Linked DNA regions of Homo sapiens. The main gene of each other region encodes a partner of the protein of the gene in region 3 in a complex. Each region holds a gene or a part of one and is shown on either strand. Other genes may lie near its edges. The genes, in order: TMEM126B, ACAD9, TMEM186 and NDUFAF1.

Region 1 (7,873 bases), on a different chromosome or scaffold from region 3:
GCTGCATTGTACTAGAAAATTCTGTTAAAGCATATTTTTATCTTTAAAACAGCAACTTTCTGCTGTAAAACATGGCAAATGACGTACCTATCATTAACTTTTATTTCTTATGTTAACACAGTAGGAAATCATATCAGATCAATTCAAGAAGACTTGTTAAAACAGACCCTTATAACACACTATGGTCTTGCATCATATCAGAGAATACTAATACAACTTATCCTGAATTGGTCCTAAATTTTCACAAATTAAAATATGTCCAAGATTGTCCCAAGGGCTCACCTGGGAGCAAATAAAGTTACTACTATAGATAAGAAAATCTTGAATGAAAAGCAACTGCTGAGGAAAAAAAACCTTCTATGAGGAAACAGAAGAGTCTTCTGTTGATAAAACTGAGATCTGTAAAAATGCGAAGAGACTAGAGTGAGAGAAGTAGAAAGTAATGTCATAAAGCAAACGAGCAGTTAATATGGGGTTTGAGGCACAGTAGTTTCAGCTTATCCAAGGGCAGTCCAGAATGGCACCTAGAAATGGGCTTAGTGAGATGTCACACCCATTCCCAATTCCCACCATGGTTGCATGGTATCAGTAAAAGAATCTCCTCTCTCTTTGACAAAAATATACTAACTAAATACCAAATGAAAATCCATCTTATGAAAATTTCATACTTTAATGAGAATATGTTCAACAATGAATAAACACTTGGCTCAGTGAGGATAGTTATTGTTTAGAATCACATTAAGTCTAGCTTTTTCGTCATGTCTACCACATGAAACAATGAAGAGAGAAAAAGACTCAAGGTGACAGAGGACAGTGATCCCTGCAGAATAAATCTAGGTTAAACTTAAAAATACTGTTCTTATATTATATAAACAGTAGAGATAGTAAGCATAGCCAATGAAAAATACAATATACACATAACTTGTTTGGCTAGTTGTCTATAATATTCAAGAATATGTATCATAATACTAGCAGTTTTAAGAGATTAAAAGCAAGATACATTGTTTCTCTAGATCAGTTTATAAGGAAAATATACAACATATACTCTGGTATCATAGAAATATAAACTGGTTTTTCTAATAAGAACTTGTTGATTCCTTTAAAAATTCAATCCATTAGTCAATTCATTATTGAAGAAGGAAAGAAGAAAGGGAAGGAGGGAGGCAAAGGAAGAGAGGAAGAAGGAAAGAAAGGAAATTCTTCTAAAGTATTATAATTTCACCAATGTATCAGCAATTTCTGTAACAGTTCTTTAAAGGGAAGAACTTTTAAGAAACTCGGTTTATGGGGTTTAGAAACATTAAGTTCTAAACTTTCTAACTAAACCTGCTTAGTTAAGTTATACCTAGAATATCAATTGACCTTCCTCCTCTTCCTTCCCACATACCTTTTTATCTCTTTCTCTGTCTCTCCTCCTTCCCATTCTCTCTTCCTTTCACTCTTTTCCTCTCTGTCTCTCTCTCTCTCACACACACACGTAATGTGTTTAATTCCATTATTAGTTCAAAATAAGGTAATCCAAAAGAAACTCTCTAGAGAAATGGTAGAAAGAATAAAAACACACATCAACTTAAATATGTCAAAGAGCCATATCATTTATTGGCTACATTCCCAAAACCATTCTTGTTCTAGATAAACCAATTGTGTCTGGTCTGGACAAGTGTGGCTCCAAAATCTCAGGCAGTTTACTTCTGTCAGTGGTATTATTAGAAACAGCAGGGGGAGGAAACAATCCCAATCTTAAATCCCAGTGTGCAAATATCACAGTTCTAGGTGTTCCAAAAGTTTTATATATCATTGTCCATCTCTACAAATATCAGCTTGGATAAGGCATCTCAGTGATTATAAGTTTCCTCAACATCCCTAACAAATCCACAGGTAGAAGAATTAAACACCATGCAGAGATAAGTTCCACTTTAACCTGCAATTCACCCAGAGCTTTAGTTTCAGATTGTAGCAACTCACATAACTGGACAACATTTGGATCTATATTAGTCCAGTATAGCAGAGTTCAAGGCTGTTCATATAAGTTTTGATTCAAAACTCTTGAGAAACTCTTTACAGTTGATCTCACCTTCCATATAATGTCAAAACAAAACAAAACAAAAACAGTCCCAAACTAGGATCCTTTGGAACAAAGTTAACCTGGGGTGCATCTAAGCTAAACTGAATCCCCAAGTTCAGAATATAATCAACTATGCTTCAGGAATTCACTAGATCTTGATCAATTCCAATAATAAAAGTTGTTGAGGAGGGAGGAAAAAAACAGGTGTTTGCCCCATTTGGGGAACTTGACAATCATGTTATTGGATAATGCATATATCTGGAAAAGCACAATAGTCACGAAAGTTGTGCTTTATCACAAAAGTGAAGATTTACACTAGAATAAATCCAAATAATAAGTCTATTTTTTAACCAAAAGATAAATTATAAAGCTGTAATTTTGTTCAGTGCAAATGAAATTACTTTGCTACCTTTCACAATTCTGTAATTAGTTTGATAAATATTAAACCCATGAGGAAGAGCTCCACTGCACAAGTTTCTTTTTTAAAGACTGCTTAAAAGTAACCTTCAACAAGCTAAGAAAACAAGCTAAAGGAGACTCCAAATCTGCGGTACTGAATCTATTCTTATTACCAACGGTGATATAAACAACCTGATTTATGAAATCATAAATATCTATCAATAAATACTATAGTCTTGCTTCCTTTTACTTTAGTAAAATAATATTACTGAATTATGTACCACTGAAACTATATTACAATAAATATTTCCCCCAAACTGAAGCAAAACTTTACTCTCAAATGGAATATAATTTAAATTACAAGTACCAGAACCAACAAAAGGGAGAAATATTATATAGCAACCTTATGGCCCACCTGTCTTCTTGACTGGCATTCTTGGGTCTTTCCACTGCCACAGGAGTCAATATCTCTTTTCAGGTCTCAGTTTGATCCAGCTGGATTGAGGCCAAGAGCCAGGTAACTGTTGCAAACCACTTCAGTGTTCAGTTTTGAAATCCAGGCTGAGTCTTCTATGTCAGACAAAGAAAATAATGATGTATTTTTTCCACAACTAAACTTTTTACACCGCCCACAGAGTTTACAGCAACGTAATTTTTTAGTTTTTCAAGTTTTTCAATTTTCAGAAAATATTTAGACTGTTTTTACAAACTGGGAAAATTATTGTAAACATGAAGAACGTTACTGAAATTCCTCTTCAGGCAGCAACATTTTTGGAAGTTCAATGACTAACTCAATTAAGGCACAAACCAAATTTAGACAGGTCTCATTACTTTATACATGGTCAAATTCAAAGATGATGATAAAGATACTCAAATCTGTAGAGAAAAATGTAACCCCACCTCCCCAAAAATACTTTTAAAAATCTCTTTGACTCCAGTCTCTAAAAAGATAGGTGAGTTTGAACAGTTTTCTGTGGCAGAACACACATTGAAAGGCCCCCTTATATTTACTGATCAGAAGTTCCGGATCTCACCCCCTCAGTAACTCAGAATCCAGCTTGCTGTCCCTTTCATTTTTTTCTTCTGTGCTCTCCAAGCCCCCAGGCTTGATCCTTAATGCCCCTCTGATTCTGATCCTCCCATGTATTAACCGAGAGGATTGAAAAAAAAGGAAAGCAATCCCTTGGCATGGAGACATTAAAGTGACAGTGCTACTCAATGGGCACTTGATGCAGGATGAGTTGGCGAAGCAGATTTCTTCACACTGGAGTCATTCACATCATGCCATCTCTTCGCATTCAAGCAGCTCCCTATCCGGCGAGGAAAAACACTGAGACTTCGAGAGAAGCCAAACCTTCCCCCAAAGGTGTTTTCAGAGACGCCGTAGTAGTATTAGACATGTAAGCATAAGCTATGTAAACGGTCCGCGATTTCCTAAATGAGAAAGTGCAGCTGCTTGGCTTTCACATCCACCTTTTCTCTCAATCTCTCTTCAAACTACCCACCTTCCTTTTGCAGAAAAGACAAGACATTTCTTTGCCACCGCTGGCCACCCCTGCCCAAGCCCCGTTCTTTTAGGGAAGAGCACTGAAATGTCCTGCACCCTCCACGCGATGAAGTGTTTCCTCAGGCAGGAGCAACAGCAGCACTAGAAATTATATAACTCTCGAATTTGGCTTCTGTAAGACATGGAGACTGGAGGGTCGGGGGTTGCCGGTCTGGGAGATACTGCTGGGCATTTAACGTGCACAAAACAGCGCCAGGCCTTGCAGTGCCCCCCACCCCGAGACACGGCTGACAAGTGGGTCTTCTCGCGGGGGTAGTGGGCAAATTTCTCTCCGGTCTCTTTCCAAGCGGGGCTAAAGGATGCAAATTGAGGGGACTACAGACTGGGGAGAGGAGTCAGACGGCTGAGAGGAGAGGAGGCTAGTCGGGGCTGCTCTGACGGCGCTGGGCGGCTGGTCCGGGGTTTGGAGGAGGAGGTGCCCGAGAAACAGAGCTTTAACACCACACAGGCCAGGGCAAAGGGGCGAGTTCCCTCAAGGACTGAAAGGGGCAGGCAGCTAGTTCCCAGCTGCCCTGAGGAGAGGCAGGAGCGCAGTAACATTACAACATTCGGGCCGCCCCATCTTTCCCGCAGGACGCGAAGAGATCAGGGAGCTAAGCTGATAAATAGTCAGGGAAGGAAATACTCGGCTGGCGAGGGGGGCAGGCCCACAGGCGCCTGGACCTCCTCTAAGCGAATAAGTGGCCGTAATTTCTAGACGCCGCGCCCAATCACAGTCAGGATGGAGGGCGCGGCTTTTGACTGAGTGGGGGCGGGCCCGGGCTGCAATCGAGAGGCGTTGAGCCGTAAATCAGCACCACTTCCCGCCCAGGGCGTTCTGGGTCCCCGCCCACCGGCAAGTCACATGAGCCACCAAAATGGTGGTGTTCGGGTATGAGGCTGGGACTAAGCCAAGGGATTCAGGTGTGGTGCCGGTGGGAACTGAGGAAGCGCCCAAGGTAGGCGGAAATCCGAAGTGGTATGGGGGGTGATTTCTGCACCTTCAAAGTGTTGGCAGACTCTTCTAAGATGATACCTTTAAAGGAGATTTGAAAAGTTAAAACAGCTCCCAAGTCCATGCAAGGAGCAGTCGATTAAGTCTCCAGTTGCTGTGGAAAGAGGCGGAGAGAACGTAGATGACCTAAATTCTAGTCCTCATTATCTGCAGTTTGTTTTCTCTTGTCTCCAGGCCTTTGCACAGGCTTTTTCTTCAACTTGGAGTATTTCCCTGCTTCTATCCGTCCCAACTCCCCTGCCAAACTGTTCTCTTTCGGTTATTGATTTAAATGTCACTTCTTCCGGGAAGCCTTCCCACGCTTCCTCTGGCTAGATTGTTTGCTTTTTCTTAGGTTGTTGGGTTTTTCGTTTATGTCACTCTCTCATTCTGTGTTTAAATTGCCAGCTTTTTTGTTCTGAACTCCCACTGCGTTGTGGATTCCTGAGGATGGGATGACTGTATCTTGATTACCCGGAGGTCTGGCATATACCACGTGCTCCCTAAATTATGAGCGAATGTTGAATAAAATTCTAAAGGTGAAATTTATTATTAGGTGAAAAATTTATTATTAGGTAAAATAATACACATGAAAGCACTACAAAACCGTTAGATGATTTGCAAACTATAAACCTACATAAATGCACTCTTACTGGTATAAGCGTGGTGACTAGTTGAGTGGCCTTAAGGGGGAAGGGGTGTAATGAAAGCACTGGAGTCTTTGACAGTGCCTTGCAAAGCTTAAGCACTCAAATATTTCCTGTGTTCTTTCCAGTATTTCAGTATTTGCTGTCCTGTAATCATAATCCTGGGTGTCTGTTTTCCCTATAGAGACTTTAGGGTGTAGACTAGGTAGGAGATTAGTAGAAGATATTGCCTGGAAGTTTGTTTTGTTTTTTGTTTTTGGTGGAAGGTGGAGGATTTCAATGAATTGGATGAGAGCAAAACAAAAATTTATCTATGGTTTATGGTTACTCATGTTATTGACGTCTGCCAAGACAGCAGATGTCTTAGTACAATAGATGGGTTAGGTATAGAATCTCCCTTAGATGTTACTATCCCTTATACTTTCCATTTGGGTGTCAGGGAGAGGGAAAAGATGTAAGTCTAGTCACTGAAAAATTGTAATTTGTAAAATATTTTACCTTTTTTTCCCCCTGCCCTCTCCAGAAATGTTACAGAAAAAGATTGAGTACATTTCTGCCATGATGCAGAGAAAGAAACTGGTCCATTATTACTCATTGTGTAACACCATAAGAAGGTTCAAAGGAGCTCATACCTTCTGTATGTTGATGCCAGGAACTGTGTATAATGAACTGGCCTTCTATAGTTAGGATTGGTACATACCGCTCATTCAGCAAATGAGTATTACAGTGATATTCAACATGTGTCCATTGACTACAGCATCAGAAGCACTAAGTGCTATTAAAATGCAGATTCTAGGCCTCATCCTACTCCTGCTGAATCCAGGTATCTCAGGAGGGAATTCATGAGACTGCATTTCAAATAAATACCCCATGTGATTCTTGTGCATGCTGAAGGTTGAGAACCACTGATTTATTAAGTATCTTGTGTGTTCATTATGCTTTATCCCCTCTAATCCTCTTGTCTAGGACTCCTTAAATTTGAGATTTAGTATTTCCCTTTAATATAAACATTAAAATTGAGATTAGTGTAAATTTGTAAAGAGACTATTTAGCTAATCTGGAGGAAAAAGAGTAAAAAGCACTGAATTTAGCAGCAATAGACCTTCCACTTGGCTGCTGTAGTAGGTAAACATTTGCAACCACGTGTTTGGATTTAACAAATGTTATTAAGACTTTTCACAGAGACTCTAGAGTCTTGCCCAGAGCAAAACATTCAGAAACGATCCTCTCTGAGAGTGCAGGGTTTGTTTTTTTGTTGTTGTTGTTTTGTTTTGTTTTTTAACCTGTCTAGTTTCTGTTAAGATGCTACTGGCCAGGTCTTCATGGTCCCTTGACATTGGCAGCTGTCTGTTCATCACACTTGGGACACAAGAACCTTCCGACCAAGGAGCCCAGTGCCATGGGTCTCTGGGGCCGGGCACGGTGGCTCACGCCTTTAATCCCAGCACTTTGGGAGGCTGAGGCAGGTGGATCACCTGAGGTCAGGAGTTCGAGACCAGCCTGGCTATCATAGTGCAATCCTGCCTCTACTAAAAATACAAAAATTAGCCGGGTGTGGTGGCAGGTATGGGTCTCTGCTATACCACATGACCATTTCTAGCAAAGGCTCTGCTTCCACCACAGGTGGTAATAGGGAACTGGATATATAATTTATGTACTCCAAAGTAGTAGCCACAATCCACTGCCTGTTCCCTTCCTGGAGCAGTGTCCCTCTTTCTGATTTTTCTCTCTCACTATTCTCCAAGGCAATCCCTGCTCTCTCCTACCTCTCTAGGAAATGAAACACGATTTCCAAAATGAACTTAATCTTTCATGAGAAACTGAGGATAGAGATGTCAATAAGCAGCCACTGTTTCCACCTCCCCACCTGAAGAGCTAGGAGGACAACTACAAAGAGCCTGACTGCCTTCTCGGAATGAGGAGAGAGGAAAACAGCAACAGTATCAGTATGTTAGCCTTCTACACTAAATCTCAAGCAAGCCAACCTTTCAGACCTTCAGTTTGCTCATATGTATAGAAATAATCATTATACTACCAATTTCTCAAGTTAGTGTGTAAATCAGAAAGCCAATGTCTGTATTGTAGGATGTTTAGCAAGAAAATAAAAAATAATAACAAAAAGCCAATGTCTAACAGATAATAAGAGCTCAGTAAATGTTGATTGAATTACTAACAAAGTATGTGAAAGCAGACGACACAGTACCTGGCACACTACTAAACTG
Region 2 (8,158 bases), on a different chromosome or scaffold from region 3:
TGACAGCTGAGAGAAAGGGCAGGGCAGGACAGGTGGTGCCAGAGGTTTAAAGATGGAAACAGATCTGAAAGATTTGTGTTCTTTCTTCGCCATGCTGCTGGGAGGCAGGAGATCCCAGGATAGAGCACCACACTGCCCCAGGTCCTGGGTAAAAGGGTTTCCCATATGTTAAAGACATAGCTCTGCATTTCCTAGCAGGGCAAGCTGCTTTTAGTCTGAGTCTTAGCTTCTGCATCTGTAAAGTTGCTTGCTATAAAGGGATCAGCCTGACAACCTCAGAGGAATGTTCCAAAGAGAAGCCAGGGAATAACTTCTGTGATACAGGATCAGCCAACATTCAGCCAAGCTGAAAACAAGGCACCCCTAGGAAGGGGGAAACGCTACTGTGTTTACTCCTATTTTGTAGATGAGCACACTGAGGAACAGGGAGGAAAAGTGACTTGCTCAAGGTCACAAGATCTTCTTGAGCCTGCACTGTCCATGTCCTCTGCTGCACAGTACCTTCCAATCTCCATGCACTACATATCTCACTGGGCTCTACAACATCTTCAAGTGAGACAAATCACTAGCTCCATTTTAAAGCTGAATGAATTGAACCCAAGGCTAAGCCTTTCACCTCTAAGAGGATGGTGTGTTTAATAACCTAGCTGTTACTATTGGCTGGGTTGTGAGACCTGTGGAAGTCACCCTGCAGCTAGATTTCTGCGGAACCTCAAAGGCGGGGGTAGGGCTAGGGCTCAGCTGGCAAGGAAGCCCACAGGCCACTAGAGGGTGACATGGGAGCGGCATGGCCTGAGATGTTTAAGAATCAGAGAGGAAGCCTTGCACATTTTGGTGTCAAAACACCGGAGTCGAGGGTCACTCAGTAATCACTCACCTGGGTTTTCCCAAATTGTCCTGATACGAACGCTTGTCAAAACCGTTTCTGCCCAGGCACTCCCTTTCCTAGCCCCTGCCCCCAAATTAAGTTCTTCCCAAGGGAATGTAAGTGGAAGGAATCCGTGATTTCTGTCCGGTTTTTAAAAGATGGGATCGTTCTTCGCAGTCTCCTCTTCCCCCAGCTCTAGGCAGAGGCCTCTAGGCCCTTGGGGATGGTGGTGTAAGGTGGAAGGGGCAGGTCTTTGCAGCAGCATCTGCAGGAAAGCCTTTCTCCTACCTTTTGATGGTTTGGTGGTCTTTGGCTTGTAAAATAATCAGTCCAATCTCAGCCTCAGCTTTAATAGTAAGGGATCAAGCAGTAGTTTCTACTCAATGTTCCTCATACCCAGAGTCAAGGATTCTGCTATGCTAACACTAACATTATGGCTAAAGAATGTTCACTTTCTGTTAAGTTATGTTGTGAATCAGTTGTATTGATGTGAGGAGACATTCAGAACTACCATGAGGATATTTTAAACAGTTGTTAAATCAAGTTTAGCCTAAAGCTGCTTCCTTATATATTTTAAGTTCGGCTTATAGGTTTTCTGCACATTGTGAACTATAAGTGGAGGCATAAACAGACCGTAGCCTATACTTGTGCCAATCACAGAGTTTTTGCCAATCAAATGTAGCCAACTGTTCAAACCATGTTCAAATAAGGCAAGGCAGAGCTGTAACCAATCCAGCTGTTTCTGTACCTCACTTTCCTTTGCTGTCCATAAATCTTCCATTACATGGCTGTGCTGGAGTGTCTGAGCTTGCTCTGGCTCAGAAAGCTGCCTGATTTGAATCGATTGCTCAATTAAACTTTTTTTCTTTTGAGACAGAGTCTTGCTCTGTCGTCCAGGATGGAGTGCAGTGGTGCAATCTTGGCTCACTGCAACCTCCACCTCCCGGGTTCAAGTGATTCTCATGCCTCAGCCTACCGAGTGGCTGGGATTAGAGGCACTCACCACCATGCCCAGTAATTTTTGTATTTTTGGTAGAGACAGGGTTTCACAATGTTGGCCAGGCTGGTCTCGAACTCCTGACCTCAAGTGATCTGCCCACTTCATCCTCCCAAAGTGCTGGGATTACAGGTATGAGGCACTGCACCCGACCCGGCCAATTAAGCTCCTTTAAATTTAATTCAGCTGAAGTTTTTCTTTTAGTACACTGAACAGGGGAAACTGTTTAAAACAACATCATATTTCTCAGAGGCTAATACTTAAATATAAGATGGAAGGATCAAAGTGTAACTATTGTCATTTTTATCACTTGCTGTGCTAAGTGCTTTCATGTGGATTTACTTAAACCTTTTAAAAGTCCTGTGAGATAAAGGGTATCATACTCATATTTACAGATGAGGAAACTGAATTTAGAAACTAGTATAGTAGTGAAACAGCAAAACTCTTCTGCTATACTCTATTGGAGCAATTAGAAACTATGCCTTAACATTTTTCTAATTTTTGTTTTGTAAAATTCTGTGCCACTGGATTTCTCATTTGGTTGATTTAGGGAGACCTGTGTACACTAAACATTTGACACATTAACAGAGTACTTGACTGATTTGACTACATTTGTTTGGCAAAAAAGTACAGCAGCTCAAAATTGAAACAGTTTTTGCAACATATGTATATTTTTCTTTGTTTTACCTATGGGGATAATTTACAAAGGCAGTTGTTTCCAAATACCTTCTTGTGAAGCTGAATGCTAAGCAAGTAAATATCAACCACTGATGAAGAAACCAGGTGAGAGACCTTAGACAAGGTAAAATAATCTGAAAAGATGCCTGCAAATATTTTGCAGTTTAGACTCTACGCCTTGCAGAGTTTTGAGCTCTTTTTTCTTGATGTTGTGTTAGCAATGTAATCTTTTTTGGTGCTGAGCTTAGCTTGCTGAGATGAAAGGGATTTCTTTTTCTTCTCAAGGAGTTGACACAATGGAAGCTGGAGGCATTTCCCAACACTGTGGTCAATGCTACAGTCGGGGAACAAGCAAGTCTCCCCCAAAACAGGGATCGGAGTTTTTAAGGATAATTTGGCGAGTAGGAGCTCGGGAAGTGGGGAGTGCTGACTGGTTGGGTTGGAGATGGAATGATAGGGGGTTGAAGTGAGTTTTTCTTGCTGTCTTCTGTTCCTAGGTGGGATTGCAAAACTTGTTGAGCCAGATTACCGGTCTGGGTGAAAAAGCAGAGTGGCATTCTTCCTGGAGGAGCTGGCTGAAGATCTGTAGAGGGCCCATGTGCCACGTTCAGAGCACTGTTGGGCTGTGAGGTGCCAGGCATGCCCTGCCTCCTACGTGGGCCCCTATGGCCTGGCCTTGAAACCGCCACTGCAAAATTATAACCGAGACAATGAAAGAGATCTGACCTAACCAACTCCATCTTGCTTCTAACCTCCAAGCTGTCCTTGTTCATTCCTGAGCGTAGGCTGAACTAACCTTGGGAAGGAATGAGTTTATAGTTTAACTTCAAAACAAAAATAGCCCTTTCCCGGGAAAACAACAACAACAACAACAAAAAACAACCTCTTCTTGCCTGGGACCAGTTGGCCTTTGGAGGACTAACAAATTAGCTATAAGATTAGAAATTACAGTTTAGAGGCCATACAGCCTTTGGTTGCAAGAGTCTGAACGTCCCCCAAATTGTTCCTGGGAATAACATCACTGTTGTAAAACCTACCAACACCCAGACTGGTAATCTGGCTCAACTAGTTCTGCAATCCCATTCAGGAACAGAAGACAGCAAGAAAAACTCACTTCGGCCCCCTATCAGTCCATCTCCAACCCGACCAATCATGCACCTCCCACTTCCCGAGCTTCTACTCGCCAAATTATCCTTAAAAATTCCGATCCGTTTTTGGGGAGACCGATTTGGCTAATAAAACTCCCTTTCCAACACACCCGGCTCTGCGTGAATTACTCTCTCTCTATTGCAATTTCCGTCTTGATAAATCAGCTGTCTAGTCAGCGGGCTGTAACCTTGGGCGGTTACAGCCTGGCCTGTCCCATCCCATCCAATAGTTCCCATCTCTTCTCAGCTCTCTCTGTAGTTTCTCTTCCTCCGCCTGCCTTTTAAGTTAGTGTTTCCCAGGACAGAGGTGACTCAGTTGTATCCAGACCGCTCTGTGACTGAACACCCACTTTCTTTTCCTTTTCCAAAAAATATATGTAACATACATGTCAACTAGGAACAAAACAGTATCTCAGGAATCCACCATCCAGTTAAAAATGGACCCTTACCCTTACCGTGCCCCTGCAGAGACCCCAATACAGCGCATTTCCCTCATTCTTTTGCTTTTCTCAAGTTTTACCACGGCCTCGTGGCCACAAGTGACAAAAGAGACAAGTGGAGGCAGCTGAGCCGGCCTTTAGGTTTCTGTACACAGGGAGATTTCCCATGGCTGGCATTTATGGAAACAACCGCTGGTATGTGAAAAACAGGTCCGTCACCGCCGTCACGACGGCCAGAGATTATACCCGCCGAGATGCCCGCGGCCCAGGGCCTACAATTTCCTCCGGCCAGCTCCTTTGGCCGCGCAAGCGCAGTGGGGCCGGCGGGAAGCGTAGGCGTGTGACGTCATCAGGCGGCGCGGGCCAGCCAGGTGCACGTGACTAAGGCCTTGGGCGCGGCAGGTGGTAGCCTTCCCGCCCTTCTGGCCTCTCCATCCCCTGCTGCGGGGGACCGCGCAAGCGCAGTGAGTACTGCACGTTGTCGCGGGCCAGTAACGTCATCAGACGTGTGTGTGTCCCTGCGGCGCTAAGAAGGGGAGACTGAGGCTGAGGCTGGGGAACATCGGGCAGCATGAGCGGCTGCGGGCTCTTCCTGCGCACCACGGCTGCGGCTCGTGCCTGCCGGGGTCTGGTGGTCTCTACCGCGAACCGGCGGCTACTGCGCACCAGCCCGCCTGTACGAGCTTTCGCCAAAGAGCTTTTCCTAGGCAAAATCAAGAAGGTAACGCGAGCCCTGGGCGAACCCTTGCTGTCTGGCTCCCGCTTTTCACCCTCAGCTGCAAGACTGGTGTTGAACTTTGTGAGATTCCCCAAACCTGCCAGAGAGATACACCCTGCGGCCGAGGCGTGTTAACACTCCGGATTCCTGAGTTCCAGGAAAACCTTCCCAGAGAAAGGGTGAGACATTTCCAAGACGGGGGACCCTTGGAAATGTGGTGGTGACGTGTTCCAGCTAAATTTTGTCAGGGGAATTCGGAAAACTCTAGGCTAGGTAATTAACAAAGCAGCCTTCATCTCAGCTGGTCTGGTCTGGAAATGTGCGGGGCTTCCTCTCTGATTCCTAAACAGCTTACACCATGTCCCTCCTCAGTCACCTTCCAGCGCCCTGGGGCTTCCTTCCCCAGGTGAGCCCAGCGCCTCTCCCTGCCATTGAGGTTCCTCAGAAATCTGGCTCCAAGATGCTTCCCAAGGGTGGCACAACCCAGCCAATAGTAACAGTTTGGTTATAAAACACTCATTGTCTTCTTAGAGTTGGAAGACTTGGGTTTGGTCTTGGCTCGTTGACTTTGAAACTCAGTTGTTTTTTTTGAGACAGAGTCGCGCTCTTGTCGCCCAGGCTGGAGTGCTCACTGCAACCTCCCTCCTGGGTTCAAGCGATTCTCCTGCCTCAGCCTCCGGAGTAGCTGGGATTACAGGCGCCTGCCCGGCTTTTTTTTTTTTTGTATTTTTAGCAGAGACGGGGTTTCACCATGTTGGCCAAGCTGGTCTAGAACTGACCTCGGGTGATCCGCCCACCTCGGCCTCCCACAGTGCTGGGATTACAGGGGTGAGCCACCGCGCCCGGCCAAGACTCAGTTCTTTCAGCCTTAAAATGGAGATAGTGTTGTGTCTCCTTCACAGATGTGTTGTAGAGCCCCAGTGAGATAAACGGTGCATGGAGAGTCTTCTTAAACTGTAGAGTACTGTGCAGCAGAAGAGAGAGCTGGCTTCAACACTTAGTCTTGTGACCTTGGAGCTGACGGCTGCACCTCCCTGTGCCTCAGTGCATTCATCTACAAAATAGGAATAAACACATTTCTTGCTCTTTCCTTTGTATTTCATTTTATCTTCTAAGGAAACCAACAGTATACTTGCTATTTCGTCGAGGTGCCCTACTTTGAACTTGGCTGAATGTTGGCTGATCCTGTATCACAGAAGTTATTCCCTGGCTTCTCTTTGGAACGTTCCTCTGAGGTTGTCAGGCTGATACCTTTATAGCAAGCAACTTTACAGATGAAGAAGCTAAGACTCAGACTAAAAGCAGTTTGCCCAGCTAGAAAGTGCGGAGCTATGTCTTGAACATATTGGAAAACCTTTTACCCAGGACCTGGGGCAGTGTGGTGCTCTATCCTGGGACTTCCTGCTATCCAGCAGCATGGTGAAGAAAGAACACAGATCTTTCAGATCTGTTTCCATCTTTAAACCTCTGGCACTACCTGCCCTGCCCTGCCTTTACTCTCAGCTGTCAGCTTTGCTTCCCATTCCACTGGGAAAATCCATGCAGTCGGATGAGAAGTTCACAGGCACAGTTACCCCCTCCCGCTGCATATGTGCCGGTATTATCTACATTCTGTTACTGTGAACTGTCTGCTCCTGGCAAAACCAACCTCTCATTAGACTCCAGGTCTTCTCACCTACTCAAGGGTAATTCTTTCCTTTCTCTGCATCATTAACTGTTCTCTCTACTGGATCTTGAGCCCTTACCATTCAGGCATTTGTCCCTAATGGCCATAGAAGTCAGTAATGACCTCTCTGTTATCAAATTGTGTGATCTGTTCTCAGACCTCATCCTACTTGACCCATCATTGGCATCTGACACCGTTCATCCTTCCACCCTGTTGACGCACTTTCGTCTCTGGTTTCTGAATCACTGTTCTCGCCATTCTCTGAATGTTCTAAATACTTCACTGGCTGATACTTCTCTGTGTCCATTGCTGGTTCTTATTCAGCTCCTTGACCGCTAAACAGTGACCAGTGTTTCCAACTAGCCAAGTTGGAATTTACTAAGGCTGGGTCTCGTTTCATCTACAGCCATCTGCTGGGTGACCTTATTTAGTGTCCTGGCTTTAAATATCATCAATATCCTGATGCCTCAAGTTTCTTTCTTCAGTTCAGATTTCTCCCTGAACTCCAGATTCCTTTTGCTTTTTCAGAGTTGGGGGCTTTCTCTGTCACCTGTGCTGGAGTGCAGTGGTGCCATCATAGCTCACTGCAACCTTGAACTCCTAAGGCTCAATAGATCCTCCCACTTCAGCATCCCCAGTAGCTGGGACTACAGGCACGCCCTGCCACACCCAGCCAAGATTCTTTTTTTAATCTACCTTTGTACTCAAAAGCTGTACTAAGAGGTCTAACAGGCATTTGAGATTAATAGATCCCAAACTGAGTTCCTGGTTCCCACCCAATCCTGCTCCTTCCACCAGCCTTCTTTATCATAGATAATGGTGGCTCTGTTGTTCCACCTGTTCAAACAGAACACCTGGAGTCACCTTGTACTCTTATTCTCCTAGTCCACTTCTAATTCCACAGAAGATCTGGTTTTCTCTACTTTTAGGTTCTTAGAATCTGACCACTTTTAGGCCCTTCTGCTGCTACTTTGGATCAGGCCAGTGTCATCTCTCACAGCCTTACTGGGATTAGAGCAGAAACATGGGACATGATGCTTAGAATCTCAGATTGTGTAGGCCAGTGGTTGTCACCCTGCCCTAAGCTGGACCCAAGCTATTCATGGAGTGTCCTGGAACTGCTGCAGGGATGGGTGGGAAGTTGAGTGGGTGGGATTTGGGTGCCTGTTTTCCCTATCAGCAGTCTCAGTCAGAGCCGCCTGCTTCTGTCTGTTTTACATATTTGGTTTCTGCACTAGATTTCTTTGAATAACAGGTTCCACTTTTTTAGATAATTTACAAACTGTTTATTGCAATTGAACTCTCCTCCCCTAAGGCATTGACCTGATTTGATAACATCAGGATCTTTCTCCCACGCCCCTGCAATCTCTCCTGTGTGGCAGGTTTTCTGTGGTTGTACCTGAAGGCCAATTAGTTGCCAGGCAGTCTTATCTGGCCTGCCCACTGGTACCAGAATGATCTCTAACACAGCCCATTGCACAAGACCCAAGTGTCAGTGAGCCTCTGTGTTCAGTGAAGGAGACTGAGCTTTGATATAAAAGGCTGCAGAGTGATGGAGCCATCAGCTTGTTTTTTTTTTTTTTTCTTGTTTTTTTTTTCCTTGAGACAGTGTCTTACTCTGTTGCCCACCCTGGAGTGCAGTG
Region 3 (8,170 bases):
TCCTGACTTCAAGTGATCCACACGCCTCAGCCTCCCAAAGTGCTGGGATTACAGGCATGAGACAGTGTGCCCAGCCTGTACAACATTGTTAATATACTTAATGTCCCTGAATTGCACACTTAAAAATGATTAAAAGGATAAATTTGTTAGGTGTATCTTGGTATGGTTAAGAAAAATGGAAGGCTACACAATAAAAAAAAATATTTTTTTTTTGAGACGGAGTCTCACTCTGTCGCCCAGGCTGGAGTGCAGTGGCGTGATCTCGGCTCACTGCAAACTCCGCCTCCCAGGTTCACACCATTGTCCTGCCTCAGCCTCCCGAGTAGCTGGGACTACAGGCACCTGCCACCACGCCCAGCTAATTTTTTTGTATTTTTTAGTGGAGACACGGTTTCACCCTGTTAGCGAGGATGGCCTCGATCTCCTGACCTCGTGATCCGCCACCTTGACCTCCCAACGTGCTGGGATTACAGGTGTGAGCCACCGCCCCCAGCGATAAAACATTCTTATTGACTTTCGAGTGGCAAAATAATAAAGATCATGCCTTCCTTCCTCTTTACTGTGTTACAAATTGTATAATGAACATATATTATTAATTATGTGGGGCAATGTATATAACTGGCTTAAGTTTATAAAATAACGTACCAGCATCCGGTGCATTTGGCTTTATTACACTGCAGGGCCATCCAAAGCAAGAGCCTCTAGACCTCTGGGTGGTGAACAAATCTCAACTGGGGTTTCGTGCCTACCTGGACGACATCTGCTCGTCAATGTGTAGTTAACATCCTGACAGACCCTTCTGCCGCTGGATATGTGAGGGGCACAGCACAGGGCTCTGGAAGTCCCTGCTGACTGCTCGAAGCCTTTCTCCCTGCTAAAACCTCTGACCAAATGCTTAATAATATCTGCTGTAGGCTGTTGAGTCTGCCACACGTTTGACATTTATTGTTTATTCCCACACCCATCCCATGAAACAAGCAGGACTTTCCATTTTACAGATGTGAAAACCAAGATTCAAAGAGACTCAATAACCTGCTCCAGGACAAATGACAGAACTGAGACTTCTGACTCCAAATCTTACGCTCCCCCGCCACACCTCTTTGCCTTTCTCTTTCACACCAATGGACTCTATGGGTGACCTTGGCATAGGTTCTTCTAAGAACTGGCTCTTAACAAAAACTTCTGGCCATTATCTGACTGAATGTCACAAACAAGTGCTGTAAGAACTTGCTTAGAGCCTTTTTCCTAAACCTGTACACCAGCTCTTGCCTTGTGAATTTATTCACCACAAAACACATGTTCCCAGGGGCCCAGGCAAAGTCTCCAAGTACCCAGTCCCCTTTCTTCAGCCTTGCCCACACCCTCAGCCTTCCTGTTAATCCAGGCGACCCAGGGTTACCCAGAGGTCCAGGTCCCAGTTGTTCACTTGAGCATCTGATGTACCCCAAACACCTGTGTGAAACGCTCTCTGTCCAGGATGCGTCCATAGCGCAGGGTGACGTAGAAGGTCTGTTTCCCACTGTACCGCTGGATACGCACAAACATCTCCTGAGGCCGGTCCTTGGTTTCTGTCAGGGGAATCACATCTGCCATGGGACAGTATGTGTCCTGCCGCCAGCCCCAGAAGTTCAGATGGGCCACCCGCAGCATGGTGCCAGACTCATTCAGATACAGGATACCAACCAGTCTCCGTAAGAAATAGCTCATCCAGCACAGCATGGTCAGGGCAAAGCCCGATATCCCACTCATGAGGCACACGGTGTTGAGAGTGAGGAGGCCCTGGGAGTACAAGTAATAGCCTGGTGGCAAAGCTACCACTGTCAGGGCAGTCTGTGCCAACTTCAGTCGTGACAGGAACCCGAAGGTTCTGATGGCATCAAAACGGTAAAACATCCAGAATTTCTCAGTCTCTGCGTTTGGTAGTTTCTCCTTCGAGATGGGTGAACTGCTGCCCACCCACCTCTTAGGATCCTCCTGCCCACTGCAGCACCACAGCCCATGGAGAGGCCTTTCCCACACAGCTTTTCCCCGAAACCTACGCACAGCTCGGAGAAGGGCAGCCTGAAAGGGAGACAGTAGACCATTTCTCTCATGGAACTCAACCACATTAATCACACGGTGAACATCTGCAAAGCACCATACTCTAAGGCTTCTGCCAATCCTGCAAGGTAACCGTTATTGCCAGACGAGGGAAGGGTAAAGCCAGATGCTATCTCATGTGGGCATCACAACAGCTATCTAAGATAGTTATCACTATTTCCACTTTACCACTAGGGAAACTAAGCCCAGAGAGGGTAAGATATTTACCAAAGATCACACAGTCAGTGAGTGCAGCAGAGTCCTCCTTCCACCAGGCAATTCCAAATAAATACAGGAAAGGAGGTGCGGCCGTCATTAATTCAAAACATATCCAGGGAGGACAAACTCTGGGCTGGACAATGTATCCACAAGGGGGTGTGAACATTTCCCCAAGCAGGAAACTAAATAATCAGTGTCTTAGTGGGGAACTCGAGCAACAAATCTGTGAGATATTTATTCCAATAAACTTTCTAATTCTCTGTTTGATTCATATGCTATCTTGGGTGCTGGAGGGAACTGCTGCTTTCTCTTAGCCTAGTCTGGGGAAGGGGAAACAGCGGAGAAGGAGAAGGAGCGAGGCAGGGAGGCCCCAACACGTAGCACAAGGGTATTACTAGGTGGGTAGTGAAGCAGTAAAAGCTCTTATTCCAATTCTGGCTCCAACAGTAATTTGTGAGCAAATTACTCCACACCCCTGAGATTCGGTTTCTTCGCCTTTCAAAATGGGGACTCAGAACACAGTGAACCAGAGGATGGTTTCAGAGTCCTCAACTTAGTACCTAATGCACTGTGAGAGCTCGGCGAGTTTTAGCTACTACTACTGTGCGCATGTGACCCAAGGAGGGCAAGAGAAAGCCCGGGAAAAGCGAACTGTAACACACGCCAGAGCTTCCTCCCACGGATCCTCGGAGTCCGAAACCCGAGCGTCGGGCCTGCCCGCCCCAGCCCTGACCCCGACCCCAAAGAGCATCACCCCCTCAAGGCTCGCCACCCGCCTCCTTACCATGGCCCCACCACCTGCTGCCGGAAGTAAATCCCACCGGCCCCCGGAACCCCTAAGAGCGCATGCTCGAATGTACAAGGCGGGCGTGATCTGCGTTGCACCCTGGGAGTTGCGGTCCAGGAATCGTGGCTGCCGCTACTCCCAGGCGTTATGGGAACGGAGTCCCCTCCTCTTCCCGACGTGCCCTGCGACTCAGCGGCCGAACCCGGAAGTTCCGGGCCGAGTTCCTCGTGCCAACGTGTCTTGTAAGGTGCGGCTAGAAACTGGGGACATGGCAGCGCCTGGCCCAGCGCTCTGCCTCTTCGACGTGGATGGGACCCTCACCGCCCCGCGGCAGGTAAGTGGCGGCCGGCGGGCTGCTGGCAGCCGACGCGGAGCCCGTGCTGTTCCCAGTTGGGGCTATCGACCACCCAGGGTAGGCGCCAAGGGGTGGCTAAGGACCGCCTACGTCCTCACGGCGCTGAACCCTATTCTGGGTGCACTGGAGGAATGAGAGGGAGGCCCTAACCAGCTCTTGAAGAGCTCTGGTGCTTGGAAAGATGAGACGGGGCTGAAGAACTCTTAAGAGCAGGAAACTTGTGCTAGGTTGGAAAATGTAATCTGGACTCACCGCTAGTGCTCGGGACTGATAGACCAGGATTTCAACCCAAGATCAGGCCCCCTTATCAGCTATGTGTCGGCCCCAATCCTGTAACCAATGGGCTGTGCCGTGAGTCATGATATTAAAAACAGGTTTCCAGGTCAAACCGACCTAGTGGAGTCTCATCTTCACCTCTTGACATCTGTGTGACCTTCAGCGAGTCATTAACCTCTCTGAGCCTCAACATCTACAGCTTTAAATGGGGATGTTACCTGTTCCATATGGTGTCTGTGAGGATCAAATGAGATTGTGTAAGTTCTTGAAAGTATGTTGGACACAACACACTAGGCCTCAGTAAATAGTAGCCACCTCCACCACACCCATCTCCAGCCCCTGCAATGGACTAGGGAGATGGAGGAGCCCTAGGTTATTACAGGCTGCCCGCTGAGAGCCTCTTTGGGCCCTTGGAAACTTGCTTTCCACTTTCAGATTTTGCTGCTACAGGCACAGATAAGTTTCAGTTACGATCAGCCTTGAGGTGAGGCTCTCCTGGCCCCTTTTCAGAAATTGGCCACTGAACACTGGCCATTTCAACTTGAGACTGGACCCCAATGGTCTCACTATCCTCAGCTTCTACCCTCACCCCTCATAGTTTTCGCTTGGTGGTAACAATGGTGTGCTCCAGAAGTCCAGGTCAAATGCGTGTGACCTTAGACGTATCATTTTGCCCTTCTCAGCCACAGGTTTGATTTACCTAGTGATGACGCTCAACTCCCAAGTTCTTCAAAGGCTTTTTCTGATTCTGAAATTCAGTGATCACACACTTGGGTTTGTTAAAAGCCCATAGTGGTCTAAAACTCCGGTCCCCAATTCATTTTTTGTAAAGGGCCATATAGCAAATACTTCTCTGTCTTTGCTGACTATGTGGTCTATAGTAACCACTCAACTTTAGTGCAAAACCAGCCATAAACCCTATATAAATAAGAGTGGCTGTGTACCAATAAAATTTTATTTATTTATTACAAAAACAAACAGCTGCCCAATGTGGTCTGTGGGCCATAGTGGTCTAGGGTTTACATTGCCACCCTTTTTCATATCACTGAACCCTCTCAACCTTCCTCCATCTTTCTTCCCAGGTAGGATAGTTGTTATTACCGTTTTAAACATAAGGAAACACACTCAGTGAAGAACTAACCTCCTCAGTTTCACACAGCCAACCTGGTACAAGTCTCTGGGCCTCAGGATATTGGTTCCTGTCAAGTTTGCCATTTCCTATCTGTGCTAAGGTGGAAGCTGTTCTAGTCACTGGGTATGCCATTCAGGAAAGTGCTTCTGATTTTCTGATTTTCACAGTTCTGACTCTTTTTTTTTTTTTAAGACAGAGTCTCACTCTGTCACCAGACTGGAGTGTAGTGGCCCAATCTCAGTTCACTGCAACCTCCACCTCCCAGGTTCAAGCAATTCTCCTGCCTCAGGCAACCAAGTAGCTGGTGCTACAGGCAGGCACCACCACGCCTGGCTAATTTTTGTATTTTTAGTAGAGATGGGGTTTCACTGTGTTGGCCAGGATGGTCTCTATCTCTGGACCTCGTGATCCACCCGCCTCGGCCTCCCAAAGTGCTGGGATTACAGGCGTGAGCCACCGTGTTCTGACTTTTAAAGGCCACTCCTCCAATTCTAGATTCTGTCTAATAGGTCCAGATTCCACTGTGAGAGTAGAAAAGATTGCACTCTATTACAAACCCTTCTGTACAATTTTAATCACATTCATGTATTACTCTAAAAAAGTTTTTTAAAGAAAAATCATTGAACTCCAAGTGTTTATATACTGAGGTTGAATTAAATGGTTTTTTGTATTTTCTAAATTTCTAGTAAAAAGATATTCAGCCGGGCACGGTAGTTCATGCCTATAATCCCAGCACTTGGGGAGGCTGAGGCGGGTGGATCACTTGAGGTCAGGAGTTCGAGACCAGCCTTGCCAACATGGTGAAACCCAGTCTCTACTAAAAATACAAAAAGATTAGCCGAGCATGATGGCGGGCGCCTGTAATCCTGGCTACCTGGGAGGCTGAGACAGGAGAATCGCTTGAACCCAGGAAGTGGAGGTTGCAATGAGCCGAGACCACACCATTGCACTCCAGCCTGGGTGACAGAGCACGACTTCGTGTCAAAAAAAAAAAAAAAAAGACATTCAGTGTAAATGTACAACTGAGATTGCTCAAAGTGCTGAGTTATAAGACTTGTAAAAATACATTGTGATGTGTCTTAATGTAGGGCTATTTTTTCATCTTAGTTTATAACTTTTTTAAAATTATCACACAGTTTGGAATTTACCATAAGATTATACCACTAAGACCACTCTTTCTAGATAGGAGCTTTGCTTTTAGAAGAGACTAAAAAATCTAGTTATCTTACTCTTTTACATTTTTGTTTTGTTTTGGGTGATTGCAATAAAATCAATTCTAAGCTTCTCCTTTTTTTTTTTTTTTTGTTTTGTTTTGTTTTGTTTTGAGACGAAGTCTCGCTCTGTGACCCAGGCTGGAGTGCAGTGGCACGATCTTGGCTCACTGCAACCTCTGACTCCCGGGTTCAAGTGATTCTCCTGCCTCAGCCTCCCGAGTAGCTGGGACTACAGGCGCCCACCAGCGCGCCCGCCTAATTTTTGTATTTTTAATAGAGACAGGGTTTCGCCACGTTGGCCAGGCTGATCTCGAACTCTGACCTCAGGTGATCCACCCGCCTCGGCCTCCTAAAGTGCCGGGATTACAGGCATGAGCCTCCATGTCTGGCCCTAAGCTTCCTCTTTAATTTCATTATGTTGTTTTATTTTAAAATCAACAACTTAAATCCATAAATGGAGTATAGTGTAGCATTTAAAAGGAATGATGAGCTAGATCTGTGTTGGCATGAAAAGATCACCACAGCATAGTGCTGAAAAACCAAAGTCCCTGCACAGGACATGATTCCATTTATGTTTCAAAAATAAGACCTATTTGTATATGTGCCCATAGATGGGTATATAAATGCATAGAAAAATAGCTGGGACAGTGCACAACAGCTACTAACATATTACCTGTGTTTAAAATTTGGTAAAAATAACACTTAAGTTTATTCTGGTAAAGATGCCCCCCCAGTTACAACTAAAATATTTGAACTATGTACAGAGCTGGTAACTTAATTGGCATGTATGAAAATAAGGCTTATAGACCTGGCTTATACCTGTAATCTCAGCACTTTGGGAGGCCAAGGCTGGTGGATCTCCTGAACCCAGGAGTTCCAGACTGGCCTGGGCAACATGGCAAAACTTAGTCTCTACAAAATATAAAAAAATTAGCCAGGTGTGCTGGCACATAACTATGGTCCCAGCTACTCAGGAGGCAGAGATAGGAGGATCACCGGAGTCCAGGGAGGTCGAGGCTGCGATGAGCTATGACCATGCCACTGCACTCCAGCTTGGGTGACAAGTGAGACCCTATCTCAAAAAAAAATTTTTTCTTTAATTTTTAAATAAGAAAATAAGACTTATGTACTTGTGTTACCCTTAGAGTTTTGGTCTCCTGATTATTGTGTGGCTTATGACTGTTGTATTTTCTTTCTTGAAATTTAGAAAATTACCAAAGAAATGGATGACTTCCTACAAAAATTGAGGCAGAAGATCAAAATCGGAGTGGTAGGCGGATCGGACTTTGAGAAAGTGCAGGAGCAACTGGGAAATGATGGTAAATGATGGGTTGCTAATTACATCTGGTAAAAGATTAACTTCTTATGAGGATATTGTTGCCAAGTATCATAGGCTGCCCTAAAACCTTGTCCCCATATGGCGGGCTTTCTGCTTCCTTTTTTGGGAAACATTTTCTTGGCCTTTGCTTTTCCTCTGCTTTTAATCCAGTACATTTCTGGAGTTACTGATGGAGAACTGGGTACTCAGATGTGTGAGTAGATTCACCTAGAAAGGTCAGTGGCTGTATCTGCACATGATAATCTCTCTGCCTGGAATACTTCTTGCTTGTACCCGTTGACAGCCCTTCTAGCCCCAGTCAGACCGGTCTTCATATTGTCCCTCTGACAGCCCCCCTCACCTCCCCATCACTGAAACAGAATCTCCAGCACAGGACCCCGAAAAACCAGAGAGGCTTATTGACCCCTTCACTGGAGAGTCTGACTTGATAGGTCTGTGGAGCCTGGGAATCCTATTTCAGTGAGTACCTCTGAGAGATTCTAGTGTACAACCTTGCTAATGTAGCATTCTGTAATTATTGTAAACTATCCGATTATATGTTTTTGAAGAGCAGGAGTATGGGTTATTCATCTCCATAGCCACAGGGCCTCCTGGCCTGTAAGAAATTGTAAGTGGATGCCAGGCGCGGTGGCTCACGCTTATAATCCCAGCACTTGGGGAGGCCGAGGCGGATGGATCACCTGAGGTCAGGAGTTTGAGACCAGCCTGGCCGACATGATCAAACCCCATTTCTACTAAAACTACAAAAAATGAGCTGGGCGTGATGACG
Region 4 (6,335 bases), on a different chromosome or scaffold from region 3:
CACCTGGTCCCTCCCTTGACACATGGGGATTACTACAATTCAAGATGAGATTTTGGGTGGGGAGACAGCCAAACCATATCAGGACCCTTCAGTGGTTTCCCATTACAATTCGAATAAAGTCCAGGCTGGGCTAGGTGGCTCATGCTTTTAATCCCAGCACTTTGGGAGGCTGAGATGGGCAGATCACTTGAGGTCAGGAGTTTGAGACCAGCCTGGTCTACATGGTGAAATCTTGTGTCTACTAAAAATACAAAAAATTAGCAGCAGGTGGTGGCACACGCCTGTAGTCCCAGCTCCTCAGGAGGCTGAGGCAGGAGAATCGCTTGAACCTGAGAAGTGGAAGTTGCAGTGAGCCAAGATCGCGCCACTGTACTCCACCCTGGGTGACAGAGTAAGACTCCATCTCAAGAAAAAAAAAAAAAAAAAAAAAGAATAAAGTCCAAACTCCTGCACATGGCCTATGGGCCTACAATATCGGACCCCTGTCTTCATCTTCCATCTCTCCTCCTGTCTTCATCTTCCATCTCTCCTCCTACCTCCTTCCTCCACACCAGCCCCTTTTCTGTCAGATTTAACAACCTCATTTCCATCTCAGAGCTTTGCACTTAGTGTTGCTCTGCTGTAATGCTCTGCCCCCATGTCTTCACCTGCTTTCTCTTTCCTGTCATTCACCTCTCGGCTCAAAAGTTGCCTCAGAGAGGCCTTTCCTGATTCCTGTAACTAAAGTTGGACCCTCTAATCCAGTTATTTCAACACCACCATCCTATAACTTTCTTCATAGAACTTATCACTAACTAAAATTACTTTGTTCATTCATTCATCTGTTTATTGTCACTCTACTGCCTTCCCTGGAACATAAATTATATAAATTCTTTTTTTTTTTTTTTTTAAGATGGAGTCTCACTCTTACTGCCCAGGCTGGAGTGCAGTGGTGTGATTCCAGCTTACGGCAACCTTTGCCTTCCAGGTTCAAGAGATCCTCCTGCTGGGACTACAGGCGTGTACCACAACGCCCGGCTAATTTTTGTATTTTTAGGAGAGATGGGGTTTCATTCACCAAGTTGGCCAGGCTGGTTTCGAACTCCTGACATCAAGTGATCCACCCGACTCGCCTCCCAAGGTATTGGGATTATAGGCGTTTGAGCCACCACACCTGGCCCTAAATTCTGTAAATTCTGTGAGAGCAGAGATCTTGCTTATATTGTTCCTACCAGTTTCCCCTGTACCTAGAATTTTGTCCTAGTGCCTAGCACAAAATAAGCACTCAATACATACATATATATGTAGTAATACAGATATATAACACAAATTATATATACTTGTATTTAAGTAATATATATATAATGAATTATTATACAAAATAACTACTTCATTATAAAAACAATTTGGGAAGTACAGAAAAAAATCTTGTACTACCACTATCCAGTGATAAAATACTATTTTTATTTTATTTTATTTTTATTTTTGTAAGACAGAGTCTCGCACTGTCGCCCAGGCTGGACTGCAGTGGCGGGATCTCGGCTCACTGCAAGCTCTGCCTTCCAGGTTCACACCATTCTGCCTCAGCCTCCCGAGTAGCTGGGACTGCAGGTGCCCACCACCACGCCCAGCTAATTTTTTGTATTTTTAGTAGAGACAGGGTTTCACCGTGTTAGCCAGGATGGTCTTGAACTCCTGGCCTCATGATCCGCCCACCTCGGCCTCCCAAAGTGCTGGGATTACAGGCATGAGCCACCATACCCAGCAGATAAAATACTATTTTTTTTTTTTTTGAGACAGAGTCTGGCTCTGTTGCCCATGCTGGAGTGCAGTGGCACGATCTCTGCTCACTGCAAGCTCCGCCTCCCGGGTTCACGCCATTCTCCTGCCTCAGCCTCCTGAGTAGCTGGGACTACAGGCACCTGCCACTACACCTGGCTAATTTTTTGTATTTTTAGTAGAGACGGGGTTTCGCCGTGTTAGCCAGAATGGTCTTGATCTCCTGACCTCGTGATCCGCCTGCCTTGGCCTCCCAAAGTGCTGGGATTACAGGCGTGAGCCACCGCGCCTGGCACAAAAATACTATTTTTAATATGTATCTTCTACACTTTTCTAGTCACACTTTTCCCTTCCAGTGGTGTTTTATAACATATATACAGTATTTTCACTGAACTATTGTTTACAACTTTCTCTTCAAATATATTTCTACATCATTTTTAATGTCTGCATGATATTATATAAGTAGACAACAATTTTGGCTGGGTCCAGTGGCTCACATCTGTAATCCTAGCACTTTGGGAGGCTAAGGCAGTGAATCATTTGAAGCTAGGAGTCTAAGACAAGCCTGAGCAACATGGCAAAACCCTGTCTCTACAAAAATACAAAAATTAGCCCAGTGTGGTGGCATGTGCCTTTAGTCCCACCTACTCAGGAGGCTGAGGTGGGAGGATTGCTTGAGCCTGGGAGGTCAAGGCTGCAGTGAGCTGAGATCACCCTACTGCATGCACTTCAGCCTGGGTGACAGAGTAAGACCCTGTCTCAAAAAAAAAAATTTTTTTTTCTTAACTTGTTCTTCATTATGTACATGTAGATTTAGATTGTTTTCAGAGTTTTCTACTGTCGGAACAAACTCTGAGGTAAACATCCTTAACTATTTTCATAGGCTATATTCCTAGAGATAAAATTACTGGAATAACTATTAATATGTATAATTCATTTTTATTTATGTTCATTAAAATTTATTTACTTATTTGAGACAGGGTCTCTCTTCTGTTGTCCATGCTGGAGTGCAGCATGGGCTCGCTGTAGCCCCAACCTCCCAGCCTCAGGTGATCCTCCCACCTTAGCCTCCTGAATAGCCAGGACTACAAGGATGCACCACCATGGCTGGATAAGTTTTTTGTTTTTTTACTAGAGTCTTGGTTTCACCGTGTTTCCCAGGCTGGTCTTGAACTCCTGGGCTCAGTTGATCCTATTGTGTTGGCCTCCCAAAGTGCTGGGATTACAGGCATGCACAACCAGGCCCAGCCATTTTCTTCCTTTGTTAAACTCAAAATATAAATAAAATTAGCATACTCTGTACCTGTTTTTTGTGTTTTTAAAATTTAGGAATATATCCTGGAGAGCTTCTGTATAATTATTTAGGCAGGGTGTGGTGGTTCATACCTGTAGGCCAAGGTTGGCAGATTACTTGAGCTCAGGAGTTTAAGACCAGCCTGGCTAACATGGTGAAACACCGTCTCTACCAAAAAAAAAAAAAAAAAAAAAATTAGCCGGGTGTGGTGGTGTGCGCCTATAGTCCCAGCTACTCAGGAAGCTGAGGTGGGAGAATCGCTTGAACCTGGGAGGTGGAAGTTGCAGTGAGCCAAGATGGCACCACTGCACTCCAGCCTGGGTAACAGAGTGAGACCCTATCTCAAAACAAAACACAAACAATTAAAGCCAGATATAGTTTTAAAAGATCGTGCTTAATAATAAGTAAATTACATAGAGAAGAAATATGAAAATAAAGTTGATGAATAAAAAGGCACACTTGAAAGTTCAAGAGTAGAAGGAATAGGACATTTCTTTTAGTTCAGTTTCTAATGTAGGAAGGAAGGGAAACGTTAAAATTCTTTTTTCTTTTTTTTCTGAGATAGAATCTAGCTCTATCGCCCAGGCTGAAGTGCAGTGGTGTGATCTTGGCTTACTGCAACCTCTACCTCCCGGGTTCAGGCAACAAAGTGAGACCCCATTCTCCACAGAAAGAAAAAAAAAAAAAAGCTGTGTTTAGGATACTAGTCTTTTTTCCATAAATGTTACAAATATTTTTTTCATAGTTAACCCTTTATCGTTTGGCCTGAGTTATATCTTTGATCCAAATGGCTAGCCATTTGTCATAATACATATATGACATAATTTTAGAATAAATGTAAACTCATTTTATCGTTACAATTACATGCAGATGCCTCAATTGCTTACATTTCAGTTATGAAGTAAATGGTTTCTTCTTTCAGATTCCTTTTTCCAAATTTTTCTTCTCTAATCGAGGAAGAATCCGGGATGTTCAGCATGAGCTTCCGCTTGATAAGGTAACATATTCCTGTATTTTTCACTCAGAACTGTATCATTTTTAATGAATCGGAACTCTGGGGAGACTGAGTTCATTTGAGAAGGCTGGCAGATGAATATTTCTTCTCAGGGCCACTGCTCTTATACCCAGCCAGAGGCTGACTTAGACCTCTCCTATGAACCATACCCCCATCCTGAAGGAATTTTAGAAGGATCATTTTTTAGCATGCCTACATTTTACTTTAGCTATTTTCCCCCCTCCCTTCTCTCCTAATTTAGCTTTAAAATAAGAGTTTATGAACGCTTCAAGGAACTCCATTAGGCATTCATGTCGTCCTTACTAGTCTTTTTGTTTTTTGACATGGAGTCTTGCTTTGTCACTCAGGCTGGAGTGCAGTGGCATGATCTCGGCTCACTGCAACCTCTACCTCCCGGGTTCAAGCATTTCTCCTGCCTCAGTCTCCTGAGTAGCTGGAATTACAGGTGCCTGCCACCACACTTGGCTAATCTTTGTATTCTTAGTAGAGACGAGGTTTTACCATATTGGGCAGGCTGGTTTTTAACTGGACCTTGTGATCTGCCCACCTTGGCCTCCCAGTGTTGGGATTACAGGCCTGAGCCACGACGCCCGGCCGTCCTTCCTAGTCTTAAGTGGCACTACCTAATGAGGAGAGGGGAGGAAGTTGAATGAGGAAAGAAAAGCAGTCTTGTATTTCCTCTTACAGTATGCTATGGGAGAATTAGTAGTATTTGCTAAGGGCTGATAGCATTAAAACCCAGTTATAATCATCACCTGATGGGATTTTAAACTCCTGGAATAATCTCAGTACGTCACTGTATGAGATTTTAATCAATTTCTGTATTTTAAATTTAGATCTCTTCTATAGGATTCACCTTGGCTGATAAAGTGGATGGTCCATTCTTCCTGGAGATAGATTTTATTGGCGTGTTTACTGATCCAGCTCATACAGAAGAATTTGCCTATGAAAATTCTCCAGAGCTTAACCCAAGGCTTTTTAAATAAAGATCATATGGTAGTTTTGTTTTACTAATCTAAGGGTACTAGCATCTACAATGATATAGACAAAATAAAATATTTCTTTAATGGCATCCAACCAATGGCTAGTATGTATTCTCTCTCTTTTTTTTTTTTTTTTTTGAGATGGAGTTCTGCTCTGTCGCCCAGGCTGGCATGCTGGCGTGCAGTAGCGTGATCTCGGCTCACCGTAACCTTCGCCTTCTGGGTTCAAGCTATTCTCCTGCCTCAGCTTCCCGAGTAGCTGGGATTATAGGCATGCACCATCATGCCCAGCTAATTTTGTATTTTTAGTAGAGACAGGGTTTCTCCATGTTGGTCAGGCTGGTCTCGAACTCCTGACCTCAGGTGATCCGCCCGCCTTGGCCTCCCAAAGTGCTGGGATTACAGATGTGAGCCACCGCGCCTGGCTGGCTAGTATGTATTCTCTAAGACAAGTTATAATGCTGTTGCTGGCCAGGCACTGTGGCTCACGCCTGTAATCCCAGCACTTTGGGAGGCTGAGACGGGCGGATCACTTAAGGTCTGGAGTTCGAGACCAGCCTGACCAGCATGGTGAAACCTCGTCTCTACTAAAAATACCAAAGTTAGCCAGGTGTGGTGGCACATGCCTATAATCCCAGCTATTTGGGAGACTGAGGCAGGAGAATTGCTTGAACTCGGAGGCAGAGGTTGCAGTGAGTTGAGATCACGCCACTACACTCCAGCTTGGGCCACAGAGCGAGACTCTGTCTCAAAAAAAAAAAAAAAACCCACAAAGAAAGGCTATTGCTAAGAGGGACTGGATAAGGGGAACACAGCATGAAACCAGGTTCTCTGGTGTACTTTATCTCATAGAATGCAAGTACTGATGTAAATGTACTATGTAAATAACTTAGTGTTTTTGCTCAGAACAGTTGCTGTTAGGAACATTTCCTATATGAGTAGTTTCTAAGGCAGGAGTCTCTGAGATGACTGTTAATGGCCTTCTACCACTCTGTTGCATTTAGATTTCTTCTAATTTCATTTTGTTTTGCTTTTTTGAGATGAAATTCCCTCTGTTGTCCAGGCTGGAGTGCAGTGGTGCGATCTCGGCTCACTGCAACCTCCGCCTCCCAGGTTCAAGCGATTCTCTTGCCTCAGCCTCCCCAGTAGCTGGTATTACAGGCCCACACCACCATGTCTGGCTACTTTTTTTGTGTTTTTAGTAAAAACAGGGTTTCACCATGTTGGCCAGGCTGGTCCTGAACCCCTGACCTCAGGTGATCCGCCCAAGGCAATAACTCAGTAA

The links.
Region 1: TMEM186 (region 3) and TMEM126B share a complex: the UniProt entries of both Homo sapiens proteins name them as parts of the mitochondrial complex.
Region 2: TMEM186 (region 3) and ACAD9 share a complex: the UniProt entries of both Homo sapiens proteins name them as parts of the mitochondrial complex.
Region 4: TMEM186 (region 3) and NDUFAF1 share a complex: the UniProt entries of both Homo sapiens proteins name them as parts of the mitochondrial complex.

The regions. Positions count from the first base shown.
Region 1 is NC_000011.10:85,623,720-85,631,592, forward strand, and holds the start of TMEM126B (complex I assembly factor TMEM126B, mitochondrial), read left to right. Parts: upstream 1-4,873; 5' UTR 4,874-4,888; coding exon 4,889-4,969; intron 4,970-5,412; exon of another isoform or gene 5,413-5,522; coding exon of another isoform or gene 5,523-5,543; intron 5,544-7,425; exon of another isoform or gene 7,426-7,597; intron 7,598-7,873. Other genes in the region: DLG2 (disks large homolog 2), read right to left, coding at 2,880-2,898. UniProt on the Homo sapiens protein: As part of the MCIA complex, involved in the assembly of the mitochondrial complex I. Participates in constructing the membrane arm of complex I.
Region 2 is NC_000003.12:128,874,990-128,883,147, forward strand, and holds the start of ACAD9 (complex I assembly factor ACAD9, mitochondrial), read left to right. Parts: upstream 1-4,630; 5' UTR 4,631-4,702; coding exon 4,703-4,852; exon of another isoform or gene 4,853-5,028; intron 5,029-5,101; exon of another isoform or gene 5,102-5,122; intron 5,123-8,158. UniProt on the Homo sapiens protein: As part of the MCIA complex, primarily participates in the assembly of the mitochondrial complex I and therefore plays a role in oxidative phosphorylation.
Region 3 is NC_000016.10:8,794,530-8,802,699, forward strand, and holds TMEM186 (transmembrane protein 186), read right to left. Parts: upstream 3,111-8,170; 5' UTR 3,086-3,110; coding exon 3,083-3,085; intron 2,062-3,082; coding exon 1,423-2,061; 3' UTR 651-1,422; downstream 1-650. Other genes in the region: PMM2 (phosphomannomutase 2), read left to right, coding at 3,354-3,419, 7,270-7,381. UniProt on the Homo sapiens protein: As part of the MCIA complex, required for efficient assembly of the mitochondrial complex I.
Region 4 is NC_000015.10:41,386,162-41,392,496, reverse strand, and holds the end of NDUFAF1 (complex I intermediate-associated protein 30, mitochondrial precursor), read left to right. Parts: intron 1-3,974; coding exon 3,975-4,049; intron 4,050-4,903; coding exon 4,904-5,053; 3' UTR 5,054-5,144; downstream 5,145-6,335. UniProt on the Homo sapiens protein: As part of the MCIA complex, involved in the assembly of the mitochondrial complex I.